Linked DNA regions of Homo sapiens. The protein of the gene in region 1 purifies or fractionates together with the protein of each later gene. This does not show direct contact. Each region holds a gene or a part of one and is shown in the gene's direction. Other genes may lie near its edges. The genes, in order: USP44 and TBL1XR1.

Region 1 (16,384 bases):
TGGTCACATAGTAAATCCTGTCAAGTGTTAAACTCGGGGATTTAGATTCCAGTGTGTGCTCGCTCACCGTTTTACTGTAATCCCTCTCTTCTACCATGATGTCTCAGATAGATGACATCTAATCAAGATTTCACCCTTTTCACAATTTTGTATCAAATAGAATGATGTGTTTAATTATAGATGCCACTTCCCTTTGAAGGTCAAGTACTTTGTTATTATCTAAATAGATTTTTTAGCAATAGCTTCAATGAAACAGGTACTTTTTTTGTATTCAAGGGAATTTATTTGCAGAGTAGAGAAAGGAGTAAAGAGGTTAGTGTACAATTTAGCACATACTTAACACTATCTGAGCTGTTTTTATTTAAAACATGTTATTTTTACAATTTTGAAAGTATAGATTAATAAAGAAAGTACAGTAATTTTCAGTCCCATTACCCAGAGGTAACCTCAGAATAAATGTATTCTCACCAGGCTTTTTCCTACTGATCCTTTTCTGAAAGTGTTAACTCATTCTACGTCTTTAAAATTTTGGAATGAAATGATCTTTTTTGCTGGCATTTCCTTCTTCACCTCTGCAAGGATGTTGAACTAATAATTATTTTCGGCCTGGCGTGGTGGCTCATGACTGTAATCCCAGCACTTTGGGAGGCCAAGGCAGGCAGGTCACGAGGTCGGGAGCTCAAGACTAGCCTGGCCAACATGGTGAAACCCCGTCTCTACTAAAAATACAAAAATTAGCTGGACATGGTGACGTGTGCCTGTAATCCCAGCTACTCGGGAGGCTAAGGCAGGAGAATCGCTTGAACCCAGGAGGTGGAGGTTGCAGTGAGCTAAGATAGCACCCCTGCACTCCAGCCTGGGCGACAGAGTGAGACTCTGTCTCAAAAAATAAAATAATATAAAAATTATTTTCTATGGTTTGCCAGAAACATGTTTAACTAAATTTTCTCTGTATTCATTTTATCATTTTGAATAAAAGGTAATACAGAGCCCTAGATCCTTCCCTTAACCTCCAAATTGAGTAAATTCTCTCAACTAATGTTTGTTAAGCACTAATTCTACCTCTGCCCCCTTCTTCAAAACTGCTATACTCCTGCAGCTTTAATTTCCTTATAATTTCTGGACTGCTAGTCTCTCTTAATCACTCGTCCCTTCTCCAGAGCTCTTTGTAATTCAGATCCCTCTGTAACCCACAGATCTGATCATATCATTCTCCTCTACAGATTTCTTCAGTGGCTCTGTGTTGCTCATAGGCCCTAGAAGCAAGCTTGGGGATGATTAGGGCAAGTAATTCTCTGAGTCCCAGGTACCAGCGAGTGGCCTTAGAAGGGGAGTTGCTGGTGTGTGCAGACTTCAGGTGGCCACATGCCCTTGGCCTTGCTGACTACACATTAATAGAGGAGGGTCACAGCAAGGATCCCCTAAAGTGGTTGTTTAGGTCTAGATGCAGACCATGCTACTGTGTGTTGAGAGTAGACTGTTGGTGGCAGTAAGGACAGAAGTGGAGAGACCATCTGGGAGCCTTACTGCAGTAATCCCGGTAAGACTTGATTGTAGCTTGGATCAGGCTGGTGGCAGTAGAGGCACTAAGTAAGTCAGATTCTCAGTATATTTTGGAGGTAGAGTCAATCATTTTTCCTGAAGGATTGATTTAGAGAGAGAGAGTCAAGGATGACTCTAAGGTTTCTTGCCTCAGTACAGAAAGATATGGGATAGTGGAATATATAAATCACTGATGTCTCAATTCTGCCATTAGCAACTATTGTCAAATCCTAGGTGTTCTAATAAAGTACCATATTTGACCAGATTTTAAACCTCTGGAAATTTTTAGAGAGAGGAGTAAATTTAAAATGTGCACTTAAAACGTGTGAAATGGGGGCTGGGCACGGTGGCTCACGCTTGTAATCCTAGCACTTTGGGAGGGTTAGGCGGGTAGATCACTTGAGGCCAGGAGTTCAAGACCAGCCTGGGCAACATGGTGAAACTATGTCTGTACCAAAAATACAAAAATTAGCCAGGCGTAATGGCACATGCCTGTGGTCTCAGCTACTGGGGATGCTGAGGTGCGAGAATCGCTGGAACCTGGGAGGTGGAGGTTGCAGTGAGCTGAGACTGCACCACTGCAGTCCAGCTTAGGTGACAGAACAAGACCCTATCTCAAAAAAAAAAAAAAAAAAAAAGGAAAAAAAAGGAAAGAAAGAAACATGTGAACATGTGAGATTTGGGACTGGTCAGTACCTGATACCTAAAAATTAAGGAACGAATATGAGATTTTACAAAAAGAGGTGGGAAGGAACCAAAAATCAACTGCTTTTGCAGTTTTCTTAAGGCCTGGAGGTGGCACTTGCAGGTACCGTTGAAATTCACAGTTTCAACTGCCCTAAAAATTTAATGCCTTGGTCATGATACATAGGGTGTTTTTAGTGTTCCGTAACTAGGTCTCCACCCAAACCCTGAAATTTGTCTTTGATTTGTATTAAATCAATGAAAAAAGTGTTTGTGATCACGGCTTTTTAAATAAGATTTCTGTTCATTACATGTAAATAACTTACAGCAGAAGTGTTCCTGACTTTAACTGATAAAGGAACAAGTTCTGTGTCAAAAATCACATAAGCTTTTTTAAAAAAATAAGCTTATAATTTCAGATAGGTTTAGGCCTGCTAGAATGTAATAAAAGCTTATTGCCACCCACTTCATATTCTTCCTTTTTTTCTCTTTATTTCCTTGTATGTTTCTGAGAATATTCAAATACAAAAGCACATTCTCCTCTTCTGTCTTTCTCTTTCCCTAAAGCCAACTGTCAAGTCTGTTCGGCCTCAGAGTATGTTATAGAGCCATGAATTAAAGGTAATTATTGATTTACCAAATGGAAAAAAATAAGTTTAATGGTAATATGATTTATTTAAATAGGGTAATAAGATTCGTTCACTATAGATACAATTAAAACTACCATTTACCATGTGTCAGATAAATATTATCTCTCAGTTCTTCAACAACTCAATTGAAGTTGGTATGATTTTCCCTCTTTTACAGATGGTTTAGAGAAGTTAAAACATTTGCTCAAAATCATACATTTAACAGTGTGTGGCAAAGGTACAATTCAAACCTATGTTTTTCTGCCTTAAAACTCACCTTTTCATCTTTGATTATGTTTTATTAACTCCACATAAGGCTCATAATGTTTATAAATATTAGTGAGATATATTTGGGTCTTGCCAACCCCTGTCATTAAGAAAAGGGGCCAGGCACAGTGGTTCACGCCTGTAATCCCAGCACTTTGGGAGGCCAAGGCGGGTAGATGACCCGAGCTCAGGAGTTCAAGACCAGCCTGGGCAACATGACGAAACCTTGTCTCTAGTAAAAATACGAAAAACAGATTAGCTGAATGTGGTGGTGCACTCCTATAATCCCAGCTACCCGGGAGGCTGAGGCACAGCAATCACGTGAGCCCAGGAGGCAGGGGTTGCAGTGAGCTGAGATCGCACCACTGCACTCCAGCCTGGGCCACAGAGCAAGACTCTGTCTCAAAAAAAAAAAAAAAAGGGAATGCAGTTTTGGAAACTGCCCTCAGACTACTGGGTAAAAAAGGATAGATCTTAAGCTATTTCAGTGGAAAGTGATTACTACCCATTTTTCACCACTAGATGGTGGCAGAAAGTTAAAAACAAAAGCTAAAGGCGCCTCATTAGAGAAAGTGAAGTGTCTGTGCTTTCAGAGCAAGGTGGATGTGAGGTTAGGGAAGTTTAGAGAAAGGGAAATGGGAGAACTGCCAATGGTATTATGATAAGCAGCCTAGAAATTGGGAGCAGAGGACACAAATCTTTATTATTCTTGGGAAAAAATATGAAAAATATTAGCATCTTGTTATTAACACTTGACATTGTTCTGTTTAGTTTTCAGATGCTTCAAGTGTTGTGAACAGAGACTTGTTTGGATTATGCATTTCTCAGCTAGACTAAATAAATGCTAGCAATGGATACGTGCAAACATGTTGGGCAGCTGCAGCTTGCTCAAGACCATTCCAGCCTCAACCCTCAGAAATGGCACTGTGTGGACTGCAACACGACCGAGTCCATTTGGGCTTGCCTTAGCTGCTCCCATGTTGCCTGTGGAAGATATATTGAAGAGCATGCACTCAAGCACTTTCAAGAAAGCAGTCATCCTGTTGCATTGGAGGTGAATGAGATGTACGTTTTTTGTTACCTTTGTGATGATTATGTTCTGAATGATAACACAACTGGAGACCTGAAGTTACTACGACGTACATTAAGTGCCATCAAAAGTCAAAATTATCACTGCACAACTCGTAGTGGGAGGTTTTTACGGTCCATGGGTACAGGTGATGATTCTTATTTCTTACATGACGGTGCCCAATCTCTGCTTCAAAGTGAAGATCAACTGTATACTGCTCTTTGGCACAGGAGAAGGATACTAATGGGTAAAATCTTTCGAACATGGTTTGAACAATCACCCATTGGAAGAAAAAAGCAAGAAGAACCATTTCAGGAAAAAATAGTAGTAAAAAGAGAAGTAAAGAAAAGACGGCAGGAATTGGAGTATCAAGTTAAAGCAGAATTGGAAAGTATGCCTCCAAGAAAGAGTTTACGTTTACAAGGGCTCGCTCAGTCGACCATAATAGAAATAGTTTCTGTTCAGGTGCCAGCACAAACGCCAGCATCACCAGCAAAAGATAAAGTACTCTCTACCTCAGAAAATGAAATATCTCAAAAAGTCAGTGACTCCTCAGTTAAACGAAGGCCAATAGTAACTCCTGGTGTAACAGGATTGAGAAATTTGGGAAATACTTGCTATATGAATTCTGTTCTTCAGGTGTTGAGTCATTTACTTATTTTTCGACAATGTTTTTTAAAGCTTGATCTGAACCAATGGCTGGCTATGACTGCTAGCGAGAAGACAAGATCTTGTAAGCATCCACCAGTCACAGATACAGTAGTATATCAAATGAATGAATGTCAGGAAAAAGATACAGGTTTTGTTTGCTCCAGACAATCAAGTCTGTCATCAGGACTAAGTGGTGGAGCATCAAAAGGTAGAAAGATGGAACTTATTCAGCCAAAGGAGCCAACTTCACAGTACATTTCTCTTTGTCATGAATTGCATACTTTGTTCCAAGTCATGTGGTCTGGAAAGTGGGCGTTGGTCTCACCATTTGCTATGCTACACTCAGTGTGGAGACTCATTCCTGCCTTTCGTGGTTACGCCCAACAAGACGCTCAGGAATTTCTTTGTGAACTTTTAGATAAAATACAACGTGAATTAGAGACAACTGGTACCAGTTTACCAGCTCTTATCCCCACTTCTCAAAGGAAACTCATCAAACAAGTTCTGAATGTTGTAAATAACATTTTTCATGGACAACTTCTTAGTCAGGTATGGATTTTTAAGAATCTTATTTTCATCATTGGGAGTTCATAAAGTGTAGCCTATAAAAAGGCATATTCTATGTACATCTAGTGTGTTGAGCTAGTACCATTTTCAGGTCAAAATAGATTGTTTTTATAAATATGTATAGAGAAATCAGCTCACTCAATTCCTTCTTTCATGAATCATTGGAAGTAGTTTTACATCTATGGTAGCAAAAGCTTTTGGAGGGAGGGAGAAATCAGGAGACGGAGCTCTCTAGGTTACCAATATTACATTCATTATCTGAGGGATTGAGAAGAGGAGGGTTTAATCCCAGAGGGAACGGATTTAAAGATGCTGCTATTCTCGGGATGAAAATGGTGCACATGGCCGGGCGTGGGGGCTCACACCTATAATCCCAGCACTTTGGGAAGCCAAGGCGGGTAGATCAGCTGAAGTCAGGAGTTCAAGACCAGCCTGACCAACATGGTGTAACCCCATCTCTACTAAAAATACAAAAGCTAGCTGAGTGTGGTGGCAGACGCCTGTAATCTCAGCTACTTGGGAGGCTGAGTCAGGAGAATCGCTTGAACCCAGGAGGTGGAGGTTGCAATGAGCTGAAATCACACCACTGCACTCCAGCCTGGGTGACAGAGCGAGACTCCGTCTCAAAAAAAAAAAAAAAAAACCCAAAGAAAGAAAGAAAATGGTGCACACTTGAGCAATTTCAGGGACCAAGGAGTAGCCCTGGAGGACTTCCTATAAAATCAAAGGGTCATGGTCTGAGAGCTTTAACAAGTAGGTAGGGAAATTTTAAGGTAAACAAATGTGATTTCATCTAGAATAATCTTATATGATTTTCCTTTATTTTAATTACTACTCAAAAGTTTCCTTTGTCATGATAAGGTGGACTATAAAACCAGAATCTTCGAAGTAAAGGTTCTCTATACTGAGTGGACTTATTGGTGAACTGTTAATAGACATAAGGTTCTCTACTTTCCCATAACACACAAATTTAAACAAAATTTTTTTTATAACTGAGGCTATTAGGCTTTTAGGTCATTTCCTTCCCCCTGCACACCTGCCTCTGTTCTTCAGTTCAACTTGCATTGTAATAAGGCCATCTTTTGTTTTTATAGCATACTTTCCTAAAATGTTGTTTAAGTATTTCAGATGTAATTCTTCTTAAGGAATATCTATGAAGTTTATTTTTCAGTGTTTCAGAAATGCAAAGATTTTGTGTCAATTAGCAAATAAGAATTGTACTGCAATTTTACTTCTCCATCTTTCTCTGTCATTTCCTTTTTATGCAAAAGTTTTAAAATACACTGTTACAGAGTGCAACATATAGTTGCAGGAAACCTATATAATATAGGAAATCTATATAGAAGGAAAGAAAAATCATTCTCTAATCCTATAACCCCACAATCCATTGGTAAAACTATTTATATTTTGGTATATTTTCTAGTCTTTTTTTCTCCTGCACATGTATAAATATTTTTTCCCATAATTGGTCATTTTGCATTTATCTGCTTTTCCCATTTAATATTGTAATTATTTTCCAATAATTAAAAATATTTCATCATTCTTTTCAAAACATTTCAATGTTCATAATTTTTTTGTGTGTTTTTTTTGGTATATGTCTGCTATTTAACATCATATGTTTTTTTTTGTTTTTGTTTTTGTTTTTTTGAGACAGAGTCTCACTCTGTTGCCCAGGCTGGAGTGCAGTGGCGCGATCTCGGCTCACTGCAAGCTCCACCTGCTGGGTTCACGCCATTCTCCTGCCTCAGCCTCCCAAGTAGCTGGGACTACAGGCGCCTGCCACCACACCCAGCCAATTTTTTGTGTTTTTAGTAGAGACGGGGTTTCACCATGTTAGCCAGGATGGTCTCGATCTCCTGACCTTGTGATCCACGCGCCTCGGCCTCCCAAAGTGCTGGGATTACAGGCATGAGCCACTGCTCCTGGCCACATCGTATGTTTATACCGTAACTTAACCATTCCCCTATTGTTGACTGTTTTTAATTTTTTTCATTATTATAATGTCATCAATTAATTTTTCTGACTTCCTTATGACAGAGTCTTAGAAGTTGACTTTGTCAGAGTAAGACTTCTGATACTTGGTGACAAAGTTCTTTCCAGAAAGTGTTTTTCTTTTATATCTATCTATCTATCTATCTATCTATCTATCTATCTATCTATCTATATTTCCAGTAGTATGAAAGTTGCTATGTGCTTATTTTTTCCTTTATAAATGTATTTTCAAATTAATAAAAATTATTGTACCAGCTTTTTGCTTCTCTTTCTTTAATACACTCTTAGGGAACTGGTTCTCAGGAGATTTAAGACAGTTGGTTGCTGTAATGGCTTTTCCTTTCTATTTTTTATTTTTTTTATAGAGACAAGGTCTCACTGTGTTGCCCAGGCTGGTCTCAAACTCCTGGGCTCAAGCAGCCCTCCCGCTTTGGCCTCTCAAAGTGCTGGGATTACAGGCATGAGCCACTACACCCAGACTGGGATGGCTTTTTGTGTGTTTTTGCTTTTGTTTTTGTTTTTTTTGTTTAATTCAAGAAAATTCTCAAAATGTCTGGCCCTGGCACTACTGAGTCCTTAGACTATAAACGCCAGGAGAGTTCTTTGTGTCAATTTGTGAAATCTAAAATCTGTATTACAACTGGCTTCTTTATTTTGTTGCCTGTGCCAGGACTATAGCTTGTATGAAAGAGGTTCTTTATAATATTTCATATCATATGTGAATTGTTAGTTCATGGAGTCTGTCTTCAATTATGTGCAGTGTTTGTTGGCATTAAATCCTGCTGAATGTTTCACTGAAGTTACTATTCATTTCCTTTCCGGTTGCTACATTGCCTATGTAAGTTGTTAAAACAGCTCCATGTTTTTCGTGTTTTCTGTGTTTGGATGGGGATTTTAATGTTATGTTTGCTTTAAGTAGGAGTATGACATCATTATTTATGTCATATATCTTGTCTTTTGAAATTATCAGTTGTCAGGGCCTTAAAATCTGCATAATGAAAAGATAGTATTTTACTTGTAATATGGTTAAGATTGGATTGGGTTAAGAGGTTATAGGATTTGGGGTTAGGAAGAAAAATCAGCAAAAGATGAAGGAGAGGCCGGGCATGGTGGCTCACGCCTGTAATCCCAGCACTTTGGCAGGCCGAGGTGGGCGGATCGCCTAAAGTCAGGAGTTCAAGACCATCCTGGCCAACATGGCGAAAGCCCGTTTACTAAAAATAGAAAAATTAGCTAGGCGTGGTAGCTGGCACCTGTAGTCCAGCTACTCAGGAGGCTGAGGCAGGAGAATCGCTGGAACCTAAGAGCCAGAGGTTGCAGTGAGCCGAGATTGCGCCATTGCACCCTAGCACTGGGGACAGAGCGAGACTCCATCTCAAAAAAAAAAAAGATGAAAGAAACAGTGAGGAACCTCAAGCCTAATGACATAAATACATTAAACTTAATGCATGTGAATGTACATCATATGTATATATCTATGTATACATAGATATATGTATATATGTATATATGTATACATAGTGTGTTTCTATTCAGTGTGTCCACAGTTTGGATTTTTACCTAAATTTAATGCCCTTAGAGCTTTTTGAATGCCCAGTAGTTAAAGCAACCAATTCATGATGGCTCTGATAACAATCTTTTGGAAGGAAAAATCATAATGAAAGATTTCCTGACAAGAATATAAAGCAGATTATTCAGAATCCTAATGGTGCATTTTCATGAGAAAAGTTTATTTAGTGGCAGTGACCTCTAGTGAAAAGAGTTAATGTTTTGATGGAAAGATTATAATCTTAGGAACTCATATTCTCATTTGCAGGTTACATGTCTTGCATGTGACAACAAATCAAATACCATAGAACCTTTCTGGGACTTGTCATTGGAGTTTCCAGAAAGGTATCAATGCAGTGGAAAAGATATTGCTTCCCAGCCATGTCTGGTTACTGAAATGTTGGCCAAATTTACAGAAACTGAAGCTTTAGAAGGAAAAATCTACGTATGTGACCAGTGTAACTGTGAGTAAAGACGTTGTGTTCTTGGTGCTTTCCTAGGAATGATAAAGAGAAACGCAGATGAGAGGAAGCTGAAAGAAATCTTTAGCAGTTATGAAAATGAACTTTTTTTCAGTTCATCAAAAGAAACAGACGTTTTCACTTTATAATTGGCATTTATGAACTATGCATTTGTTTGGCCATATTGATGGAATTTAAATTGTTTCTGATCTTGTAGACAATTTTGGAGAGAGAAGATTCATAACAAGTTTAAATATGATATGTGGAGCAAAATAAAGTAGCAAAGAGGAATAATGAAAGGAAAGCATGTCATGTAGCATGAATGAAACACTTGCTTTATGAGCTTTTTTGGCTACATATCAAAGTGATATGTAGATAAATGCGTGTGTGTATGTCTATATACATAAAATAGGAAATAATATATGCAGGACTGCTGCTGTGGAGATTGGCTTCATCAAAACAAAGATTTATTCAAAACCATGCACTGTCTCTTCTGTGTTAGTTATTCCCAGTGTCTATAGATAGAGGTGAGATACTGTCAAGGTGCTTACATTCCTAATGGAGGAAGCAGATAGACAGGATCCACTATGATAAGTGCTCTAATGGAGGAGAGCACAGGAACCTGACACTGGGGGTGAAACAGCCACTTCAGTTAAAAGAGAAGCGTCTTCGGCCAGGTGCAGTGGCTCACGCCTGTAATCCTACCACGTTGGGAGGCCGAGGTGGGCAGATCACCTGAGGTCAGGAGTTCAAGCCCAGCCTGGCCAATGTGGTGAAACCTCGTCTCTCCTAAAAATACAAAAATTAGCTGGGCATGGTGGCACGCACTTGTAATCCCAGCTACTCGGGAGGCTGAGGCAGGAGAATTGCTTGAACCCAGGAGGCAGAGGTTGCAGTGAGCTGAGATTGTGCCACTGCACTCCAGCCTGAGCAAGAGTGAAACTCTGTCTCAAAAAAAAAAAAAAAAAAAAAAGCATCTTCCTCCAAGGAAACAGTGTATAAAACCACATCAGATCTGCTGTGTTGGCCAGGTGCGGTGGCTTACGCCTGTAATCCTAACACTTTGGGAGGCCGAGGCAGGTGGATCGCTTGAGGTCAGGAGTTCAAGACCAGCCTGGCCAACATGGCGAAACCCCATCTCTACTAAAAATATAGAAATTAGCCGGGTGTGGTGGAGTGCATCTGTAATCCCAGCTACTTGGGAGGCTGAGGCAGGAGAATCTCTTGAACCCAGGAGGCGGAGGTTGCAGTGAGCCAAGATCGTGCCACTGCACTCCTTCCTGGATGACAGAACAAGCCTCTGTCTCAAAAAAACACACAAAAACATCTACTGTGTCTTTATTTCCTCTGTTGATGTGTATATGTAGTGGGAGTTAAGCTATGAGGATGCAAAGGCATAATAATGATCGAGTGTGGGCTGGGCACAGTGGCTCACACCTGTAATCCCAGCACTTTGGGAGGCTGAGGTGGGCAGATCACCTGAGGTCAGGAGTTCGAGACCAGCCTGGCCAACATGGTGAAACCCCATCTCTACTAAAAATACAAAAATTAGCTGGGCATGGTGGCGTGCGCCTGTAATCCCAGCTATTCAAGAGGCCGAGGCAGGAGAATCACCTGAACCTGGGAGGGGGAGGTTGCAGTGAGCCGAGATCGCGCCATTCCACTCCAGCCTAGGCAACAGTGCGAGACTCTGTCTCAAAAAAAAAAAAAAAGAATGATCCAGTGGACTTTACAGATTCAGGGGAGAGGGTGGGAGGGGTGAGGGATAAAATGCTACACATTGGGTACAGTGTACCCTGCTCAGGTGTTGGGTGCACCAAAATCTCAGAAATCACCACTACAGAACTTATTTATGTAACCAAACACCACCTGTTCCCCAAAAACCTATTGAAATTAAAAAAAAGAATAAGATATACTTACATAGCATCTTAGTATTTATACTATATAAACATATAGTGTAGTATAGTGTAGTGTATAGTAAACTATGCTATAGTTTATACTATGCTATATATATTTTTTCAGGTATTCTCCCTAATTTCCCTATCTCGCAAATAGATTCTAAGGCTTTAAATAACTAAACTTTTAAGGTAAACAAAAAATAGGATATTCCCACATTGAAGAAATGTTATATCAATTGATGGTTTCCTGGAATGACTTTAACACTTTTGTATAAGTGCTGTCTAATGTGAACGCATAAAGTAGCCTTAAATTTATAAGGTTTTTTTTTGTTGTTTTTTTGAGACAGAATCTCGCTCTGTCACCCATGCTGGAGTGCAGTGGCACAGTCTCGGCTCACTGCAAGCTCCGCCTCCTGGGTTCAGGCCATTCTCCTGCCTCAGCCTCCCGAGTAGCTGGGACTACAGGCGCCCGCCACCACGCCTGGCTAATTTTTTGTATTTTTAGTAGAGACAGGGTTTCACCGTGTTAGCCAGGATGGTCTCGATCTCCTGACCTCGTGATCCACCCGCCTCTGCCTTCCAAAGCGCTGGGATTACAGGCGCGAGCCACCGCGCCCGGCCTATAAGGTTTTTTTAAAAAATAAATCTTTGTCAAAGTTGTTATGATGAAGTATTATTTTTTCTTGGACATAAATGTGGTGAGTGCCAAATGCTTTCATCACCAAATTTGGGGGTGATGTTATGAATGCAGAATATGGTTTTATAGCAAATTTCTATGTGTTTACTAAAGCTACCAAATACAGGCCTAAAAGAGCTGCTTTAACACAGCAGTGCAAATGTTTACAATTATATGCCGAGGAGTTGATATCCCCTATCTGGCTACCCTTGGACCGATGTGCTAGGAGACAATCCAGAGGTAGGTCCAGGACATTCAGCAGCAGCCAGATACCTGGATCGCAGGGTTAGACACCTGGAAGAAAGGCCAGCGAAGGTGGCTTAGAGCTCAGCTTCATGGTGGACTGAGCCTGCTTCCCACATGAGAAGCAGCTGCTGCCATGGCTGGAGTCGGAGCTGGTGTACAAGTTGAAGGATAGCTCCTGGACATCAGGAGCAAACTGTAGCTGATGGCCCAGCTCCAGGACAGTCCATAGGTGGACCTCTAGGGAAGCAGAAGGGACAACAAGAAGAATCCTGAGTTCCAGCTGTCTAAGATCTAGTGCTAAAAGAGCAAAAGCAAAACGCTTGAGTGAGGGAGGCCTCAGAACTGGTAAAGTCCTGCTTTCCTAGGCCGTTGGCCAGGGCTGAGGTGGTCCCCAGGAAAAGTGGAGGGATGTTCTGGGCAATCAGGACCTTCCTCTGGGTTTCTGACTAGCCTTGGTAAATGAACTGACCACTCACTTTTTTTTTCTTTTTTCTTTTTTAAATCTTTTGACCACAAACTTTTAAATTAAGAGTTTGGGAAATGTATATTAAAATGTTTAGGGAATGTTGTAACTTTTCCTATTAATTGGTATAGCCAGTTCCATTTAAAAATATTATTATGGCTGGGTGCAGTGGCTCATGCCTGTAATCCCAGCACTTTAGGAGGACGAGGCAGGTGGATCACAATGTCAGGAGTTCGAGACCAGCCTGGCCAACATAGTGAAACCCCGTCTCTACTAAAAATACAAAAATTAGCCGGGCATGGTGGCACGCACCTATAGTCCCAGTTACATGGGAGGCTGAGGCAGGAGAATTGCTTGAACCCAGGAGGCGGAGGTTGTGGTGAGCCGAGATTGTGCCACTGCACTCCAGCCTGGGCAACAGAGTGAGATTCTGTCTCTAAATAAATAAATAAAAATATTATAGCAGTATACTTTGTTCTATCACATTATATGCAAGATTATTATTAAATCATGTACTTGATTACAGATCTGTCTAACTTGACTAGCTCCTAAGTTTTTTGGTTAATTGTGGATCATGAGTTTCTTGAGGGCAAAGCCCATGTCTATCTCTAGCACAGTACAATGCCTGGAACACAGTACATACTTTTCATTTCTGACTTAATTAAAAAGAAGGTTCACTCAGCTTTTCCCTGAATCTTTAAATGAAATTTGATTTTTATTCTTTCTTTGATGTTACAGCAAAGCGTAGAAGGTTTTCCTCCAAACCAGTTGTACTCACAGAAGCCCAGAAACAACTTATGATATGCCACCTACCTCAGGTTCTCAGACTGCACCTCAAACGATTCAGGTCTGTAGTAGGACCAGTTGCAAAGTTATCATTCCTTGTGCTTATAATGCTTCAAAACTTAAAGAATGCATGTTATAATTTTTTCCCCTTACTTTAATCACCTTTCTGACAAATGAATTAACTTTTAATATCATATACTTGGCTAGTAAATGACTTACATTTGCTTATTTGTTTATTTATTTAGAGATCGAGTCTCACTCTGTCACCTAGGCTGGCGATAGGGTTTTACCATGTTGCCCAGGCTGGTCTCAAACTCCTGGGCTCAAGCGATCCACCCACATGGGCCTCCCAAAGTGCTGGCCGGGCAAGGTGGCTCACACCTGTAATCCCAGCACTTTGGGAGGCCGAGGCAGGTGGATCACCTGAGGTTAGGAGTTCGAGACTAGCCTGGCCAACATGGTGAAACCCCATCTCTACTAAAAATACAAAACTGTAGCCGGGCATGGTGGCGCATGCCTGTAATCCTAGCTGCTCAGGAGGCTGAGTCGGGAGAATCGCTTGAACCTGGGAAGTAGAGGTTGCAGTGAGCCGATATCGCACTGTTGCACTCCAGCCTGGGCGACAGAGTGAGACTCCATCTCAAACATACATATGTACGTACATACATACATAAACATAAAAATAAAAATACAAAAATTAGCCAGGCGTGGTGACACACGCCTGTAATTCCAGCTACTTGGGAGGCTGAGACAGGAGAATCACTTGAACCCTGGAGGCAGAGGTTGCAGTGAGCCAACATCATACCATTGCACTCTAGCCTGAGTGACAGAGCGAGACTCTGTCTCAAGAAAAAAAAAAGAAAAATGTTGAGATGACAGGTGTGAGCCACCGTGCCCAGCAGAATATTTCTAATACCTTTGATGTCCCCTGTGTGTGCCTGTCAATCTTGTTCCTTTCCCCTCTTCAGAAGCAAACCATTATGAATTTTGAGTATAGTGTTACCTTATTGTTCTTTATCAGTTTATTGTATCTCTTTTTTTTTTTTTTTTTGGTAGAGACAGGGTTTTGCCATGTTGCCCAGGCTAATCTGGAAACTCCTGAGCTCAGGCAATCTGCTCACCTCAGCTTTCCAATGTGCTAGGATTACAGGCGTGAGCCACCGCACCTGGCTGAGAGATATTGGAAAAACCGAACTCAGTTTCTCCTACCATACTCTTACAACAGAGAATACGAATGTGACCTCTGCTTACCAAAATGTGTAGGAGATTTCTCCCCACCAAGCAAGTCATCAGTTCTGCAGTGGATGCGAGCTGGGTGTCCTCTAATTCAATTTAGTTCTGACACTGTCTACCTGGAGGTAGCATCAGATCCCACAGATGGAGAGCTCAGTCCCACAAGACTGACCCCCACTTCAGACCCCAGTCATAACTCCAGGTTTGTGGAAATTGTGACCAACCTGTTGGCTGTAAATGTAATGGGATTCCCACAAGCTGCTCCCCTGGTTTGATTAATTTTCCAGAGGGCCCCCACAGAACTCAGGGAAACCTTTGTGTTTACCCATTTATTACAAAGGAGAGTTTCAAGGATCCATATGAACAGCCAGATGGAAGTCATGTGTAGGGCATGGCTTGTGGGAAGGGGCATATAGGTTCCACACCCTCCCTGGGGGTGCTGCCCTCTGGGGACTTCAGCATGGTTAGCTATCCGGAAGCTCCAGAAGCCCATCCTTTTGGGTTTTTATGGAGGCTTCAGTACATAGGCATGACTGATTACATCATTCAGCCCCATTCCCTTTGGGGGTTGGGGGCAGTGTTTGGAAGGAAGCTGAAAGTCCCAATCCTCTAGTCATTCCCGGGTCTTTCCTGTGACTTGCCCACATCCTGAAGCTATCTAGGGGTTGCCAGCCACTAGTTGTCTCATTAGCATACAAAAGACACACTTTTTTTTTTTTTTTTTTTTTTGAGCCAGAATTTCGCTCTTGTCGCCTAGGCTGGAGTGCAATGGCGCAATCTCAGCTCACTGCAACCTCTGCGTCCCGGGTTCAAGCGATTCTCCTGCCTCAGCCTCCCCAGTAACTGGTATTACAGGTATGCACCATCAAGCCTGGCTAATTTTTGTATTTTTAGTAGAGACGGGGTTTCACCATGTTAGCCAGGCTGGTCTTGAACTCCTGACCTCAGGTGATCCACCCACCTCGGCCTCCCAAGGTGCTGGGATTACAGGCGTGAGCCACCACGGCCAACCAAGACACTCTCATCACTCCAGAGATTCCAAAAATTTTAGGAGATGTATCTGAGGAAACTGGAAGGAAAACCAAATATATATTTCACAACCCCACAGAGAGATTGGAATATGACTTATGGTCCAGCAGATAACATAATTTGAATGGTTCATCTTTAGTTCCGTGCCATTTTACACTGGACTAAGCATTTTCACTTTTTTTTTTCCATCATAAAACTATGTTCTTGTCTCTCCCTTCTCTACCTGCTATTGGTCTGAACCTCATGTTTTAGTACTTTACTACTATATTTTTATCTATGTCTGCCTTGTCTCTCTACCATACTACCCCAAACTGGATTATAATCTCTTGAACTACCATGTTACATTATTTTCCCCTCGTAGCACCAACTCATTATGCATATTGATAAACACATTGCTTGCCATGCTGAGATCCAGTAATGGGAAGTATGACCAGCAGACTGAGAAAATAACAGGGTAAGGGCATTCTTTCAGTTCTGTCACCAATGGGCGGTTGTGCTGACTTACACACAGCGAGGGGACACAGTTCCTGTTGTTTTAGTCTGAAAATCTCTGAAGTGTTCTGAGGAAATAGAGATGCCCTGTTTTGTTTTCCTCCATACCTGGCCAAGAAAGATCCAGATTGTAGCTCCCATCTGGGATAAC
Region 2 (16,384 bases), on another chromosome or scaffold:
AGTTTGGATAATAAGGCCCTCGTGGTGTGTTCATCTACTTACCTGAAATAACTTGGAATAAATAATTTCGATTACACGTTGAAGATACAATGAGTGACTGTTTGGGTTTTCCAGTGTGATTCATTTTCATTTTTGTTAAAATAAGACCCATGCTACATTGATGTATTTTAGTAATGCCGACTTCCTGGGATTGTATGTTCTCACCATTTTAATAGTTTATAGTCTGGGGAAGTAGGGCACCTTTGTCTCCCCGAAAACATGGTGTGGGTTGGGTGGTATCATGGGAGTTGATGGCAAGCTTCCCAAATAGTTGAGAGTTCTAGAAATAGTTAGCATTTACCTGTGGGGGAGGGGCTGCAGGAAGAAAGTATGCCTGAGAGCAGTTAGGCGTGTGATGTGTGATTAGGCTTCTTGCTCTTAAATCCAGGTTTTCTTGTTTGGAATATGATTTTTTTTTTCAACCCTATCCTGCACTGAGATGTATGTAATCGCAATCATTAAATTCATAAATAACTACTATTTTTTTTGACGTTTGAGTTGTTGGAATCCGACCTACAGGACAAAATACTAAACTGTATGGGGGACGAAAACTACGTGCCTGGGAAAAGTTTTTCTTATTGCTAAGGAACTTAATAAAGTGACATGTTAATGGCATAAAAATTGTTGCAAAGCTCACCGTCAGTTTATGACATTTTTCTTTTAACGTATACCAGCTTTGGGTATTAATGTGGGAGACACTGGTGGTAAATGGAGTGACCCCTTGCAGAGATGATATTTTTGCATTGGTTGCTTCAAAGAAGTGTTAAGCATTTTAATACGTATGTCTAAGAATCTTTTTGATATTTGTATTCTCGACACCTAATTAAAGGTTTTGCATGATTACCATGACACCAGTCTCCCGAAAGAATTAGAGGTAACTGCTTCCTGTGTTCTAGGAGCCTTTCAAGCTAACAGAAGGTAATATAAATATAAGGGGTACTGATAAAAGGAAATGTATTAATAGACCTTTTGAACATCAACTTGTTGATTAAATCTATCAGTGCAGTATATATACAACCTTGTCAGACGAGTAGCTGACAAAGGAATCTCCCTAGTACAACTTGTAGCAGTACTATTATAAAGAATTCCTGACTTGACACATTTTGATGAAGTTGGTTGAAATAATTTGTTGGGTTTGTTCAATTTTTGGTGTCATTTATATAAAAAGAATAAAGAAGAATGTGAATGGTAGGAAGTCAGGGGAGAGGCATGGCAGAAACATTGGTATTCACTAGAACTTGTATTTTTCTAGTGCATGTGAATTGGACTCATTTCACAAATAACATTTACAGTATAAGTCACTGAAATGCAAAAAAGGAAAGCAGCTAACACGAGACATTTATACTTTATGCTCAGACATTCTGGTAGTAGAGGAGGGCTAGGACCCTAGAGCTGTGTAGTAAAGAATTGTTGAGTATCGTTCAGTTTAGGTACCACGAAGGTGGTATCTCCTGCTCTGCCACCAATAGAAACTTGAAGTTAAAAAGAAAAGACTCTGAGAGCGCTGATGCTGGAGAGATTTGGCTGTTTACCCCTCTGGGATTGGATTCGGTAAGAGTGCAATTAATTGCCCTGTAACCATAGAGCCAGAGGAGAGGGACTAGGTGCTCCGGGCTATGCTCTAGGAGGTGTGAGGTGCTTTCTATGCTGTTTATACCCTAGGCTAATCCTATGAGGTAGATAGTGTTGGGCTTTTTTTGTGGATGATGAAACAGAGATGCAAAGAAGTTAATTCCCTTGTTCAAGGCCACAAAATTATTAAATGAACACTAGGATTCAAACCTGGGTCTGTCTTAGATGACTGAATCTGCGGAATTTTCCCAGCTGTTTTGTTAGTCTTGATCCGTGTAGATCATCCTTCCAAAAACTTGTGTTTCTAATCAAGTTTATGATCTATAGTTGAGCGTCTGTACTAAATGGGTCGAGTGATTACATGGGTAAATGAAATTGATAGAACTCATATCATTGTGCTGAATTCCCTAGCACCATTTAATAAGATGCAGTCTTGCTGGGTGCAGTGGCTCACGCCTGTAATCCAAGCACTTTGGAAGGCCAAGGCGGGCGGATCACGAGGTCAAGAGATTGAGACCATCTTGGCCAGCATGGTGAATCCCCGTCTCTACTAAAAATACACAAATTAGCTGGGCGTGGTGGCGGGTACCTGTAGTCCCAGCTACTCGGGAGGCTGAGGTGGGAGAATCGCTTGAACCCAGGAGGTGGAGGTTGCAGTGAGCCAAGATCGCGCCATTGCACTCCAGCCTGGGCGATAGAGGGAGACACCCTCTCAAAAACAAACAAACAAAAAATTTGTGTAAGAAAAATCATTGAAGTCTTTGTGTTGTAGCATAGTGGTTAAAGTGAGTTCAAACTCAGGCTCTATCCTTTACTAGCTGTGATGTTGGGGTAGTAGCTCCTCATACGTTTTATTTATTTTTTAAAATTTTATTTTATTTTATTTTTTTGAGACGGAGTTTCGCTCTGTTGCCCAGGCTGGAGTGCAGTGGCGCGATCTCGGCTCACTGCAACCTCCGCCTCCTGGGTTCAAGTGATTCTCCTGCCTCAGCCTCCCAAGTAGCTGGGATTACAGGTGCTTGCCACCACTCCCGGCTAATTTTTGTGTTTTTAGTAGAGATGGGGTTTCAGCATGTTGGCCAGGCTGGTCTCGAACTCCTGACCTCAGGTAACGTGCCTGCCTCGGCCTCCCAAAGGGCTGGGATTATAGGCATGAGCCACATTGCGCCTGGCCCTAATGTGTTTGTTTCTTCATCAGTGTAAGGGGACAGTCAACTTTCATAGAGTTAAGAAGATCCAGTTAGTGTGTGAGAGGTACTTAGAACAATGGTTGACATTCTAAGCATCCTGTAAGTGTAAGTTGCTCCTGATAGGTTTGATTTTTGAAGTTTGTTTCTTTGTATTACATTTTATTTGCTTGTTATTTATTTTAGTAGGGGCATAATGTCATAGGAAGGATTTGATAGCTCCATTTCCTAAGTAACCCATTTGAAGTAAACTTAGCTTGGTTTTTTTTACTCTTAAAAAGTTGTGGTTTAAGGCTTACATATACTATGAATAATTTACATGATTGGTGTAGGTACGGTGGTGGATCTTTTTTGCATGCCTTTGTTGCTATTCTGTCATCTGGGTTGGACTTCTTAAGCCTACTTGCACCATTTGAAACATTTTTCAACTTACTTTCTTTCTTTTTTTTTTTTTTTTGAGATAAAGTCTCACTTTGTTTGTTGCCCAGGTTGGAGTGCAGGTTGGAGTGCAATGGCGCGATCTCCTCTTACTGCAACCTCGCGCCTCCTGGGTTCAAGCGATTCTCCTGCCTCAGCCTCCTAGCTGGGATTATAGGCATGCGCCACCACGCCCAGCTAATTTTTGTATTTTTAGTAGAGACGGGGTTTCACCATGTGGTCTCCATCTCTTGACCTTGTGATCTGCCCGCTTTGGCCTCCCAAAGTGCTGGGATTACAGGCGTGAGCCACCGCGCCCAGCTTCAACTCTTTTTTTTTTTTTTTTGAGACAGAGTCTTGCTCTGTCACCCATGCTGGAGTGCAATGGTGCGATCTCGGCTCACTGCAACCTCTGCCTCCCGGGTTCAAGCGATTCCCCTACCTCAGCCTCCCAAGTAGCTGGGATTACAGGCGCCTGTCACTTGCCTGGCTAATTTCTTGTATCTTTAGTAGAGATGGGGTTTCACCATGTTGGTCAGGCTGGTCTCGAACTCCTGACCGCCCGTCTCGGCCTCCCAAAGTGCTGGGATTACAGGCATGAGCCACCGTGCCAGGCAAACTCTTTAAATACAAAGGGAACTCTTTCAAGGTTTGGGTCCAGCAGAACCTAGGGTCTGCCTTTTAGGCTGTAGTGATTACTTTGGGTAGGTGGTTTTATTTTATTTTTCCTGACCACTTTTTATCTGTGTATTCTTTTCCGTATTATCAGATGCTGTCTAGATAGTTGTCCTTAGAAGTTCAGTTCCTCTATGAGCCTTATCTTATGTTCACTTCCCATTTTTAACCATACTTAATTTAGCACTAGTGTTCACTTTGCTAATAGTCAAAAGTTCTATGTATCAGGACTATACAGGTGCTTTGACAAGTACTGTGACAGTCTGAGTGCTGATGCCTGAATTTAACAGTGAGAAAATTGAGGCTCAGGTAGTAGGGGACAGAGCAGGAATTTAGGCCCAGTTTGTGTGAATTCTAGGCCAGTGTTGTTACCTAGCAGTCTGTCTTCTCAATGAATGAATGGTTGTAGGTCTGGATTATTAAGTTTTTATTTGGTTGCCCTGAGCAACCTTTCTTATTCATTTTATCTTCTGTAACTACTGACAGTGTAATTTATTTAAAGTACTGGTTTCATCTTGTCAGTTCCCCTGCTGGAGAACCCATAATGGATTCTCTTTGCCAACTGGATTGAATTTGTATGCTTCAGTCTGGCTTTTAAGAAGGTTCCATTCTACCTATTCAGCTTTATTTCTCACTCTTAGTTGGGATTCTTGCCGGCCTCTCAAATACGGTAGTTTTTGCCATACTCACTACTTTGCTTTTGTGCATGCTGTTGTTCCCTTTGTCCTTCTTATAGCCTAGTTTCAGTCCCCCTTCTTCCATGAATCCTTTTCTGGCCATCCTGACTCAGGATATTTCTTCTCTGAGATTCCATTGCACTTAATGAAGATCACAAATCCCATAACTGTTTATTGTTTTGTTGCCCCAACTACGATGTTTCTTGAACGGATGGACCTTTTTCCTTCCAGCATTTGGCAGAGTTCTTAATACCATTTTCATGTTAAAATGGATTGTGAGGGCCTGTGTTAAAATGGGAGCAGTGACAGCCCTGTTCCACTGTAATGTGGCAGCATCTTCTTTTTGAGTTAGACCTTAAAGATTTAGGTGTGCTATAGTCACATTTAACTGTTCATTTAAATTTTAGTGCTGCCAGAGTTGCAAAGGAAGAAAAATTTGTTAGTTTCTTAGATGAAAATGGATGGTTTTGACTGGGTACGGTGGCCCACGCCTGTAATCTCTGCACTTTGGGAGGCCCAGGCAGGGGGATCACCTGAGGTCAGGAGTTTGAGACCAGCCTGGCTAACATGATAAAATGTTTAGCTCTACTAAAAATACAAAAAATTAGCTGGGAGTGGTGGCACACGCCTATAATCCTAGCTACTCAGGAGGCTGAGGCAGGAGAATAGCTTCAACCCGGGAGGCGGAGGCTGCAGTGAACTGAGATTGCGCCACTGCACTCCAGCCTGGTCAACAAGAGCATCAACTCCGTCACATACACAAAAAAAGAAAATGGATGGTTTTGCCCTTTTAATTCTGGAATAGTAGCCACAGTACTGGGGGAAAACCTAGTCTAGTTAGGAATTGTGTCACAGTAAGTTGACTTTATCTGGTTATATATGTGTCAGGTAGTTAGGTATAATGATGCTTAAGATTTTGGACTCTTTTTTTTTTTTTTTTTTTTTTTTTTTTTGAGATGGAGTTTCACTCTTGTTGCCCGGGCTGGAGTGCAATGGCACATGCTTGGCTCACTGAAACCTCCGTCTCCTGGGTTCAAGCGATTTTCCTGCTTCAGCCTCCCCAGTAGCTGGGATTACAGGTGTCCGCTTACACGCCCAGCTAGAACTTTATTTTCTTAATCTGTTAGGTTTTTTCTTCATTATTTCCTTAGTAGTGTACCTAAGTTAAGATAGTGTTTTTAGATCTCACTGTTTTACAGCATTCTGACTGCACTGGAGTTTCATTTGAGCCATTACTATTAATTTATTAACATTCAGTATAGGATATATGTATTATACAATGTAAGTGAGTTTTATCTACCAGAAGAATGTCTCTTAACCATCTCCCTTCAGTAAATTTTTATGGTAAGACTGTGCTGTATTAGTTCCAGCCAACCAGGGTAATTGACTATAAAGGCAACTAATTTGGTGTTACATCCTTCTTTTTTTTTTTTTTTTGAGATGGAGTCTTGCTCTGTCTCCCAGACTGGCTGGATGTGATCTCCGCTCACTGCAACCTCCGCCCCCTGGGTTCAAGCGATTCTCCTGCCTTAGCCTCCCAAGTAGCTGGGATTACAGGTGCTGGCCACCACGCCTGGCTAATTTTTTTGTAATTTTAGTAGAGATGGGGTTTCACCATGTTGGCTAGGCTGGTCTTGAACTCTTGACTTCAGGTGATCCACCCACCTTGGCCTCCCAAATTGCTGGGACTAACAGGCGTGTACCACCACGCCCAGCTAATTTTTGTATTTTTAGTAGAGATGGGATATCACCTTGTTGGCCAGGCTGGTCTTGAACCTCTGGGCCTTGTTATCTGCCCACCTCGGCTTCCCAGAGTGCTGGGATTATAGGCGTGAGCCACCACACCTGGCCTGAAATTGTTATTTCTTATTTTTATTTTGAGACAAAGACTCATTCTGTTGCCTAAGCTGGAGTGCAGTGGCATGATCTTGGCTCACTGCAATCTCCACCTCCTGGGTTCAAGCGATTCTACTGCCTCAGCCTCCTGAGTAGCTGGGACTACAGGAACGTGCCACCATGCCCGGCTAATTTTTTTGTATTTTTAGTAGAGATAGGGTTTCGTTATGTTGGCCAGGCTGGTCTTGAACCCCTGACCTCGTGATCCACCCGCCTCGGCCTCCCCAAGTGCTGGGATTACAGGCGTGAGCCACCGCACCCGCCCAAAATTTTTAATATTTATGTATAGAATGTAAGCTTTTCAGCATGATTTTGAATCAAACAAAATGAGTTAGATTGAAAGCTCTGCTTTCTGAGAGCTTAGATTTGTAACTCAGAATTAGTGTGGACTGTAAGGATCATGCTGAAAGGTTAATACATTTTGGTAAACATAGAGTACCCAGATTCAGGAGATTTATGTGAAATGAATAGGTTTGAGGGATGAGGGAGGAGGAATACCTGTTGAACATTTAAACTGTGAAGTTTGCCACCTATTTTCCCCTTTATTGAAGGTTTCAGGAGGTAGAATTTAAAAAAACAAAACTCTGGGCTGCAAGGGTCAGAGATGGTCATTACGGTATCTTAATAGAGTAATTTCTTTTTTTTGACGGAGGTTTGCTCTTGTTGCCCAGGCTGGAGTGCAATGGCGCAATTTTGGCTCACTGCACCCTCCACCTCCCAGGTTCAAGCAGTTCTCCTGCCTCAGCCTTCTGAGTAGCTGGGATTACAGGCATGTGCCACCACACCTACCTAATTTTGTATTTTTAGTAGAGATGGAGTTTCGCCATGTTGGCCAGGCTGGTTTGAACCTCTGACCTCAGGTGATCTGCCCACCTTGGCCTCCCAAAGTGCTGGTGGGATTACAGGTGTGAGCCACTGTGCCTGGACAGTAATTCTTTTTTATATGAAATTGTATTCTCTGGGCCGGGCACGGTGGCTGATGCCTGTAATCCCAGCACTTTGGGAGGCCGAGGTGGGTGGATCACGAGGTCAGGAGTTCGAGACCAGCCTGACCAACATGGTAAAACCCCGTCTCTACTAAAAATACAGAAATTAGCCGGGTGTGGTGGCATGTGCCTGTAATCCCAGCTACCTGTTAGCCTGAACCTGGGAGGTGGAGGTTGCCATGAGCTGAGATCGTGCCACTGTATTCCTGCCTGGGCAATAGAGCGAGACTCCATCTCAAAAAAAAAAAAAAAAAAAAAAAAGGAAATTGTACTCTGGACTCTCAAGCTTTTTTTTTTTTCTTTTTAAATGTTTAAAAATTTTAATTACCTTAAAATGGTGGATTTTTTTTTAACTTTTTAATAAACTAGGTGTCAGTCTATTTGATATCTTCGGTATTTTGTCTGAGATCGGATGTGGAATCAATAAGTGCTTTTTTTCCTGATAACCTTTTGTGTTTCTCTTTTCTTCTCATTGTGTCTTTTTCAGCACAGTGGAGAGCGGGACATTGTAAAGAGACATTCAGTGACTCAGTTTTTGAGTGGATGCTTTTGTTTTTTGTTCTTAGTTTGCATCTGCTTGAATGGGGTAGCATTTTAACATGGGTCTAATATTAAGCAAACAAGTATTTTTAAACCAATTCTTTGTAAAGCCATGGTTACATGAGTAAATCACTTAGCTTCTATAAATGTCTATTAAGATGATCAGATGAAATGTTACCTGAAGTTCTCTTATTTGTGCAAATACTTGAATGAGTATACTCGATACTTCAATTCCTTTATTAAGATCCTAGGATTCTTTTTTTTTTTTTTTTTTGAGATAGAGTCTCTGTTGTCCAGACTGGAGTGCAATAGCACAATCTTGGTTCACTGCAACCTCTGCCTCCCGGGTTCAAGCGATTCTCCCTGCCTCAGTCTCCCGAGCAGCTGGGATTGCAGGCGCCCGCCACCACACATGGCTAATTTTTGTATTTTTAGTAGAGATAGGGTTTTGCCATGTTGGCCAGGTTGGTCTCGAACTCCTGACTTTTTTTTTTTTTTGAGACAGAGTCTTGCTCTGTTGCCCAGGCTGGAGTACAGTGGCACGATCTCGGCTCATGGCACACTCCGCCTCCCGGGTTCATGCCATTCTCCTGCCTCAGCCTCCTGAGTAGCTGGGACTGCAGGGGCCCGCCACCACGCCCGGCTAATTTTTTTGTGTTTTTAGGAGAGACGGGGTTTCATCCTGTTAGCCGGGATGGTCTCGATCTCCTGACCTTGTGATCCGCCCGCCTCGGCCTCCCAAAGTGCTGGAATTACAGGCGTGAGCCACCACGCCTGGCCGAACTCCTGACTTTTAAGTGATCTGCCAGCCTCAGGCTCCCAAAGTGCTGGGATTACAGGTGTGAGACACCACGACTGGCCATGATTTCAATTTTATGAGTTTTGACGGGGATCTATATGGAAATTTTTTTTAGAGTATTTAAGTACTAAAAATCTACAGCCTTTCATAGAGTAATAGTCTGGAAAGTATGTGACATGAGCATAAGCAAACACCTTGCCAGATGGGGTATAGTAATAACATATTTTAGTGGTTACCTTCAACTGTGAATAGAACACAGTTTATGGGTTAGGGAGAGATGTTTTATTCTCTTCCTTTAATTTCAACAGGCTAATTGGGAAGAGTGTATACTAATGTTGCTACATTTCTGTTTAGTGGCTATCATATGTCATTAACTCACAGTATAAGGCAATTGACTCATCTACTTTGGGTTTCTGAAATAAGGTAATGAGAATAGATAATGAATTTATCTTTTCTTTTTCTGCAATTACCTTTTTATGGGGCAGAACTTATAAAAAATAAGGATTTTAGGATACGATTTGTAGCTGTAGCAGTGCTCTTTGGCACTCATTCATATAACAATGTAATATACATGCTTAAGATTTTTCCCCTAGTAAAATGATGGGTTTTCTTTAAATTACTGTTCTCTGTCCTCTTTAGTAACGGATATACATTTGTAAAATTACAGACTGGGGTTAGGAGTGCAGACTGTTATTGTATTGTGTTCTTGTGCAAAAAAACCCCAGGTGTATCATGGGAATACATCTTTGACCTTGGACTTCCTTGTGTCCTGCTGGCAGAGGTCACTAGTTTTGACACCTGGTGAGAGATGTGAAGTGTTCCTTTATTTACTTATATTTATTTATTTATTTATTTGAGGCAGGGTCTTGCTCTGTCACCTGGGCTGGAGTGCAGTGGTGTGAACATGGCTCACTTTACCCTCCAACTCCTGGGCTTAAGCAGTCCTCCTACCTCAGCCTCCTGAGTAGGTAGGACTACAGACGAGCAGCACCATGCCCAGCCAATTTTTTTATTTTTAATTTTTTGTAGAGAGAGGATCTCACTATGTTGCTCAGGCTGGTCTCGAATTCCTGGACTCAAGCAGTCCTCCTGCCTCCCAAAGTGTTGGGATTATTGGTGTGAGCTGCTGTGCCCAGCCAATGCTTCTTTTATATATTTATTTAGATTTGGTGTTTGATTTTTTTGTTAATAAGGGACCTTCTCAAAGATACTTTTAAATGAAAAGACAAAGGGTCAGAAAATACTGGTTTTTTTTTTTTGGAAACAGTCTCATTCTGTGACCCAGACTGGAGTGCAATGGCGTTGATCTTGGCTCACAGTGACCTCCGCTTCCTGGGTCCAAGTGATGCCCCTGCCTCAGGCTCCTGAGTAGCTGGGACAGGCTCATGCCACCATGCTTGGCTAATTTTTTTGTACTTAAGTAGAAATGGGGTTTCGCCATGTTGGCCAGGCTGGTCTTGAAATCCTGACCTCAAGTGATCCATCCTCCTCGGCCTCCCAAAGTGCTGGAATTACTGGCGTGAGCCACTGCCCCTGGCCGGTTGGCTGCTATTTTAACTTAAGGGGTAGAAGACTGGAAAGGAGGACACATGCAATACAGTGTGTATGAGTATGTGTGTATTTATATATGCTTGTTGTGTGTGCTTAGAGTGACTCTAGAAAGCTGTGGAAGAGACTGATAACAATGCTGTTGGGGTAGGTAGATTATGTAGTCAGATGTCAGAGAGACTTATTTTCATGTGTAACCTTTTGAACTGTTGATGTTCTTATTACCATTTTGAAAAAAAAATTGAAAAATCGAGGCATGTGGTTAAGCTTTTAAAAACTTTATTTCTTTGGATTTGGATAGGATGGTCAAAAGAAGGGGGAAAATGATGTTAATTTCTCCTGTGCTTTTCAGTCAGTTCTTAAAGAGCTGTAACTGTATATTTCTGTAAACACTTATTTTCATTTTTCAGACTTGTTGGCAGAATTAGAGTAGTGGTATGATTAACAAGTGTTGTTTCTGTTTCATGACTGGGTCCTTAGACCAGTGGTGAATCAGTGATGATTTTTTTTTTTTTTTGAGCCACAGTCTTGCTCTGTCTCATCCAGGCTGGAGTGCAGTGGTGCGATCGGCTTACTGCAGCCTCTGCCTCCAGGGTTCAAGTGATTCTCCTGTCTCAGCCTCCTGAGTAGCTGGGACTACAGGCATGTGCCACCATACCTGGCTAATTTTGTATTTTTAGTAGAGACGGGATTTCACCATGTTGGACAAGCTGGTCTTGAACTCCTGACCTAAGGTGATCCACTGGCCTCTGCCTCCCAAAGTGCTGAGATTACAGGCGTGAGCCACCGCACCTGGCCAACTGGTGAATTTTGAATCCTATCCAAGCTTGATACTTAGAAAATAATTTAGTGCAAACTTTAGGAGGTTTTGGTTGTCCAGAAGTACTACATTTTGTCTTATTTCAAAGGTATTGCTTTGCCAAGGGTTTGGACATTAGGTGAATATTGGGGTTCTCATAGTGGTTGACTTTAATAATTATAGTATTTGGCACAATGGGATTTGTGGAACTATGGCTTCTGATACTGCACCGATCCTGTCATGACTTACAAACTTAGATGTATGTGTTATTGATGTCAAGGTGACAGATATATTAGATTTTAATGCTATTTTTGGTTGCAGTTGGTGTCATTTGCAATTGTGTCACTTGCAGCTTTTTGTTGGCTATTTAGTTTACCAGTAAAGGGGCTTGCCTTCTAGTTGTGCTCATTTTCAACTTCAACTGGAGCAACCTCAGAGAAAGGGAGCACCTGTTTTGGTGCACAGAATTGTGCTGCACTGTGACTTTGACACTAGCCTTCCTTTGAGGGCACTGTCATGGCCCTCTTCTCAGCAGTAACAGGAGACTAGGTAGGAGAGTCTTTGTCTCATTTTTGGCAGTGAACTCTCAGTATGTTACTGTGGTGAAGAGCTGGTCTCGAGCTCCTGACTTCAGGTGATCCACCTTGCCTTGGCCTCCCGAAGTGCTGGGATTACAGGCGTGAGCCACCATGCCCGGCCGATTAGATGTTTCAAGAAAAAGAAGATTGTACCTTTCTTAAAAATAAAGTTTTTTGGTCGGGCGCAGTGGCTCATGCCTGTAATCCCAGCACTTTGGGAGGCTGAGGTGGGTGGATCACCTGAGGTCAGGAGTTTGAGGAAAAAATTCGCAAGGTGTAGTGGCGGGTGCCTGTAATCCCAGCTGCGGAGGCTGAGGCAGGAGAATCACTTGAACCCGGGAGGCGGAGGTTGCAGTGAGCCAAAATCGCACCACTGCACTCCAGCCTGGGTGAAGGAGTGAAACTCCGTCTCAAAAAAATTTTTGCTTTCCGGAGTGGAATCCCTACTTTTCTCCAGGCAACACTGCTCTGGTTGACAACTGACAACTGCTTTATCAGTCACTTCAAATATATATGTTAAATTTTACACAAACGTTAACATGGATTCTCACTAAAAATCCATATGGCACAACACAGGGTATGTATACATGCAGAAATAACTGAAGGGTTATCAGGAACTTATGCACACACATTTTCTGTACTCTTCATTTAAAAACATGCTTTTATAAACCTAAATGAATTTTATTACTTAATTTTATTCAGTGAATTTAGAAAATACTCGTTCAAAGGAGTATAGAATTGTACTTTTCTACTTTTATGGATTTAGAGTCAGTACTCAGAAACGTCGACGTTCTGAATGACAGAGCATGGATGAGTTACATTTATTGGTGCTAATGTCTTTAGGTTGTATTCTGAAGCTGTATGAGGATTCTGAAGTTATGGTGCCTCAATTTTGTAAGGCATACATAAGAAGTAAGATACAAATGATAAGGAATTTTGATTGCTCTTAAATGTAAATTTAAGAGTTTTGGAGGGAAAATCTGAACAGCTGTAGCTTAGGAACCCTGAATGCTTCTCATAAAGGACAGTACTTAGAAGAATGACCATTATATAAAGTTTCTTATATCCCATTAGAGAAGAAGTTTGGATAATTATATTGTTTTAAAAAAATTTACATGCCATAACATGTTGCCTGCATGAAGTTACACTATTTGATTGAAGATTAAGCATTAGGCTTCTTTCCGTGACAGTCTTAAATTAACATCCTTGCCAATGATGACCACTAGTCATGTGTTTCTAGCACAGGCCTCTCCTTGATTGAGAGTTATTTGTTGCCTCATCTCACTAGGCAGAGATCCTTCCTTGAAAACAGGTCTCTCTCACCCATCTTGACCCTCAGCATCTGGTACAGTGCCTGGCACTCTTTAGCCTTTCCATTGTTGAGTTGAATCCTATGAGGCTCTGACTGAGGTATACGTTTGCTAGTACAGTAGACTCTTGTTGCTTTTGTGAGTGATTCACATATACAAAACTGGAAAGGAGATACATCCAGTTTCACAAATTAATTGTCCTTAGAACTTACTGTGTTCCTGCTGTCAGAGTTTTCTTCTTTTTCTGAGACAGGATCTTACTCTGTCACCCAGGCTGGAGGGCAGTGGCACGGTCATGGCTCACTGCAGCCCTGAACTCCCCGGGCTCAGGTGGTCCTATCACCTCAGCCTCTTGAGTATCTGGGACTACTACGCCACCATTCCCGGCTAATTTTTGTGTTTTTTGGTAGAGATGGGGGTCTCACTATGTTGCCCAGGCTGGTCTTGAACTCCTGGGCTCAAGTGATCCACCTGCTGTAGCTTCCCAAACTGCTGGGATTACAATAGGCATGAGCCACTGGGACTGGCTGTGCTGTAAGAATTTTGAGGGTCTGCTTGATAACCTGGCACCCTGCTCTTTGGTTTTTGTCATCTGCAGAATCCTTTTGGCTTGAAAACAGTGTAGAACTTGCTAGGGGAAACAAGGAATATACTCAAAATGTGGGTAAAAGATTCAAAGACCTTGGCCTGACCGTAGCAGTTAAACCTGAATTGGGGTGTTATTTGGGCTTGCCCACTTCTTCCTGATATTTATGTATTCTGCAGTCTCTTTAGACCCTTCATCATGTGTGTGTTTTTTTTTTTTTTTCCTAACTTGAACCCTTACGTTTACCTGATACTGGCATATGATTCTTGCCTGGCTTTTTTTCTGATTCATGGTCTTGCATACCCAGTCCATACATCTACTGCTGCCCTTCTCTTTGACTGTGGTTTTCCCTCAGAGGTCAAAGGATGTGTATACTCTGTGTCCTTTGTCTCTTTAAACCAGTTGCACAAGTGATTCTGTGGCCCAGATTGGTTCTTCCGACCTCCTCCTCTCCTGATCTGCTAGCATGGAATCTATCACAATCTAGCATGGGGACATCTTGTATTTTCCCGTGTTTTCTACTGTTGAGTGTAGGCTGGCAGAGGCGTTCTTTTTTTTTTTTTTTAAGACGGAGTCTGGCTCTGTCACTCAGGCTGGAGTGTGGTGGCATGCTCTTGGCTTACTGTAACCTCCACCTCCCGGGTTCAGGTGATTCTCATGCCTCAGCCTCCTGAGTAGCTGGGATTATAGGCGTGTGCCACCACACCTGGCTAATTTTTGTATTACTAGTAGAGATGGGGTTTCACCGTGTTGGCCAGGCTGGTCTGGAACACCTGGCCTCAAGCGATCCACCCACCGTGGCCTCCCAGAGTGCTGAGATTACACCTGCGCCAGTTCAGATTTTCATTTAATGACAATGAGTTGCGACAAGACAGAGTTGGAGAATAGAGGAGGTTCAGAGTTGGAAGAAATGGGAGTAGGTGATGGCAACACCGAGTTGTCAGAGTGAGCTGAGGCAACATCCTCTACTTCTAGCTCACTGATGAAAATATCCAGGATAGCGGGTCTGGGGTCCAGTGCCATGGGTCACGCCTCTAATCCTAGTACTTGGTGGTAGGCCGAGGTGGGTGGATCACCTGAGGTCAGGAGTTCAAGACCAGCCTGACCAACATGGTGAAACCCCCGTCTTTACTAAAAATACAAAAAACTAGCAGGGCGTGGTGGCCTGTAATCGTAGCTACTCCAGAGGCTGAGGCAGGAGAATCCCTTGAACCCAGGAGGCAGAGGTTGCAGGGAGCTGAGATCATGTCATTGCACTCCAGCCTGGGTGACAAGAGCAAATCTCCGTCTCAAAAAAAAAAAAATTCCAGGGTAATCTGAGATCTTGGTATTTAGAGACATTTGGTTGGGATGAGGGGTCTTGGTAGATTTGATTCTGTTATCATTTGGAACCTTCCAAAGTAGAGGATGACGCATTTGTTTTTGAGCTACTTTCTAGAAACCAGAATTTACTGTCAGAGAATATAGGATTTTCGGTTTTAAAACTTTGAACTTAAAATGATTGCAACAGTATTTTAGTGATATTCTAAAAAATATTTAAAAATAAAAGTTTAAAAAAGTCGTCAGCAGATTAAAAAAACTCCAAGGAGAGTAATATTTAAATGAGTAACATTTTTGTTTTCCTCTGAATGTTGTTAAAACAGACAAGGTACTATTAAATGGGGGGGGGGGGAATGAACGTATTTATGGGCTTTTCCCTTTTTTACCCTTTGTTTACTTGTCTGTAGATTAAAGTAGGTACTTTAATCTTTTGTATCTCTGGGCTCTGTTTCTTGTAGTGGGTATGCTTTTTTTTTTTTTTTTTTTTTTGAGACGGAGTCTTGCTCCGTCACCAGGCTGGAGTGCAGTGACACGATCTCAGCTCACTGCAACCCACGCCTCCCGGATTCAGGCAATTCTCCTGCCCCAGCCTCCCAAGTAGCTGGGATTACAGGCACGTGCCACCATGCCTGGCTAATTTTTTGTATTTTAGTAGAGATAGGGTTTCACCATGTTGGCCAGGATGGTCTCGATCTCCTGACCTCATGATTGCCTGCCTTGGCCTCCCAAAGTGCTGGGATTACAGGCATGAGCGACTGCACCCAGCCTGTAGTGGGTATGTTTTTTAATTTGTTGCTTCTCTACTTGGTTTGTTCCCTTTTTTGTGTCAGATATGCTGGTGAATCTAGCTGCCTCATTTTATCTAGCCTCATTTGCCTTTCTTGCGTTTTCTTCCAGATGATTCATGTGTATTTTGCTAGTAGATATATCGGTTGGTTGGCTCCTTTGTTCTGACAAATCAACATAGAAGTGACTTGTTACAAGTGAGAACTGGTAATGACAGGAACCATAACAGCATGCTAATGGTCTTTGATAAATATGGTGAATGCACATGGTAGAATTTAAAGGTCTTGGTTTGAAGCCCTCCCAAGAGTAGTTGCAACTTTGAGGTTGGGTTTAGGAATAACTTCTGCAACCTTTAGCTTCACTCCTGGGAGAAACTTTGGATACATTTTACCTGCCTCTCTTGAGCTTCAGTTCCCATATTTGCAAAATGCCATGACTTATCTCTTAAGAATTTAGTTAGAATAAAACAGATACCGTAAGTTAAAAGAATACTTGGTTGTGCTCCAGCGTGTGTCTGTATCCGGAATAGGCTCATATGTAATTGGTAAATACGAGAATTATGTCAGTACAACAAGGAGATTGCTCTGGTTCATACGTGATTTTCCCCAGCATATTCATGTTTTGCATCAGGTAACAATAGTCGAGCTCAAAGTACACTAAGAGCTGAAT

Evidence for each region.
Region 2: the proteins of USP44 (region 1) and TBL1XR1 purify together in Homo sapiens (affinity purification with mass spectrometry; 2 studies listed by BioGRID, with this or other methods). This does not show direct contact.

What each region holds. Positions count from the first base shown.
Region 1 is NC_000012.12:95,521,836-95,538,219, reverse strand, and holds part of USP44 (ubiquitin carboxyl-terminal hydrolase 44), read left to right. Parts: intron 1-2,793; exon of another isoform or gene 2,794-2,847; intron 2,848-3,033; exon of another isoform or gene 3,034-3,093; intron 3,094-3,893; 5' UTR 3,894-3,963; coding exon 3,964-5,391; intron 5,392-8,161; coding exon of another isoform or gene 8,162-8,251; exon of another isoform or gene 8,252-8,489; intron 8,490-9,217; coding exon 9,218-9,413; intron 9,414-13,431; coding exon 13,432-13,540; intron 13,541-14,621; exon of another isoform or gene 14,622-14,914; intron 14,915-16,102; coding exon of another isoform or gene 16,103-16,195; intron 16,196-16,384.
Region 2 is NC_000003.12:177,179,270-177,195,653, reverse strand, and holds part of TBL1XR1 (F-box-like/WD repeat-containing protein TBL1XR1), read left to right. Parts: intron 1-16,384. UniProt on the Homo sapiens protein: F-box-like protein involved in the recruitment of the ubiquitin/19S proteasome complex to nuclear receptor-regulated transcription units. Plays an essential role in transcription activation mediated by nuclear receptors.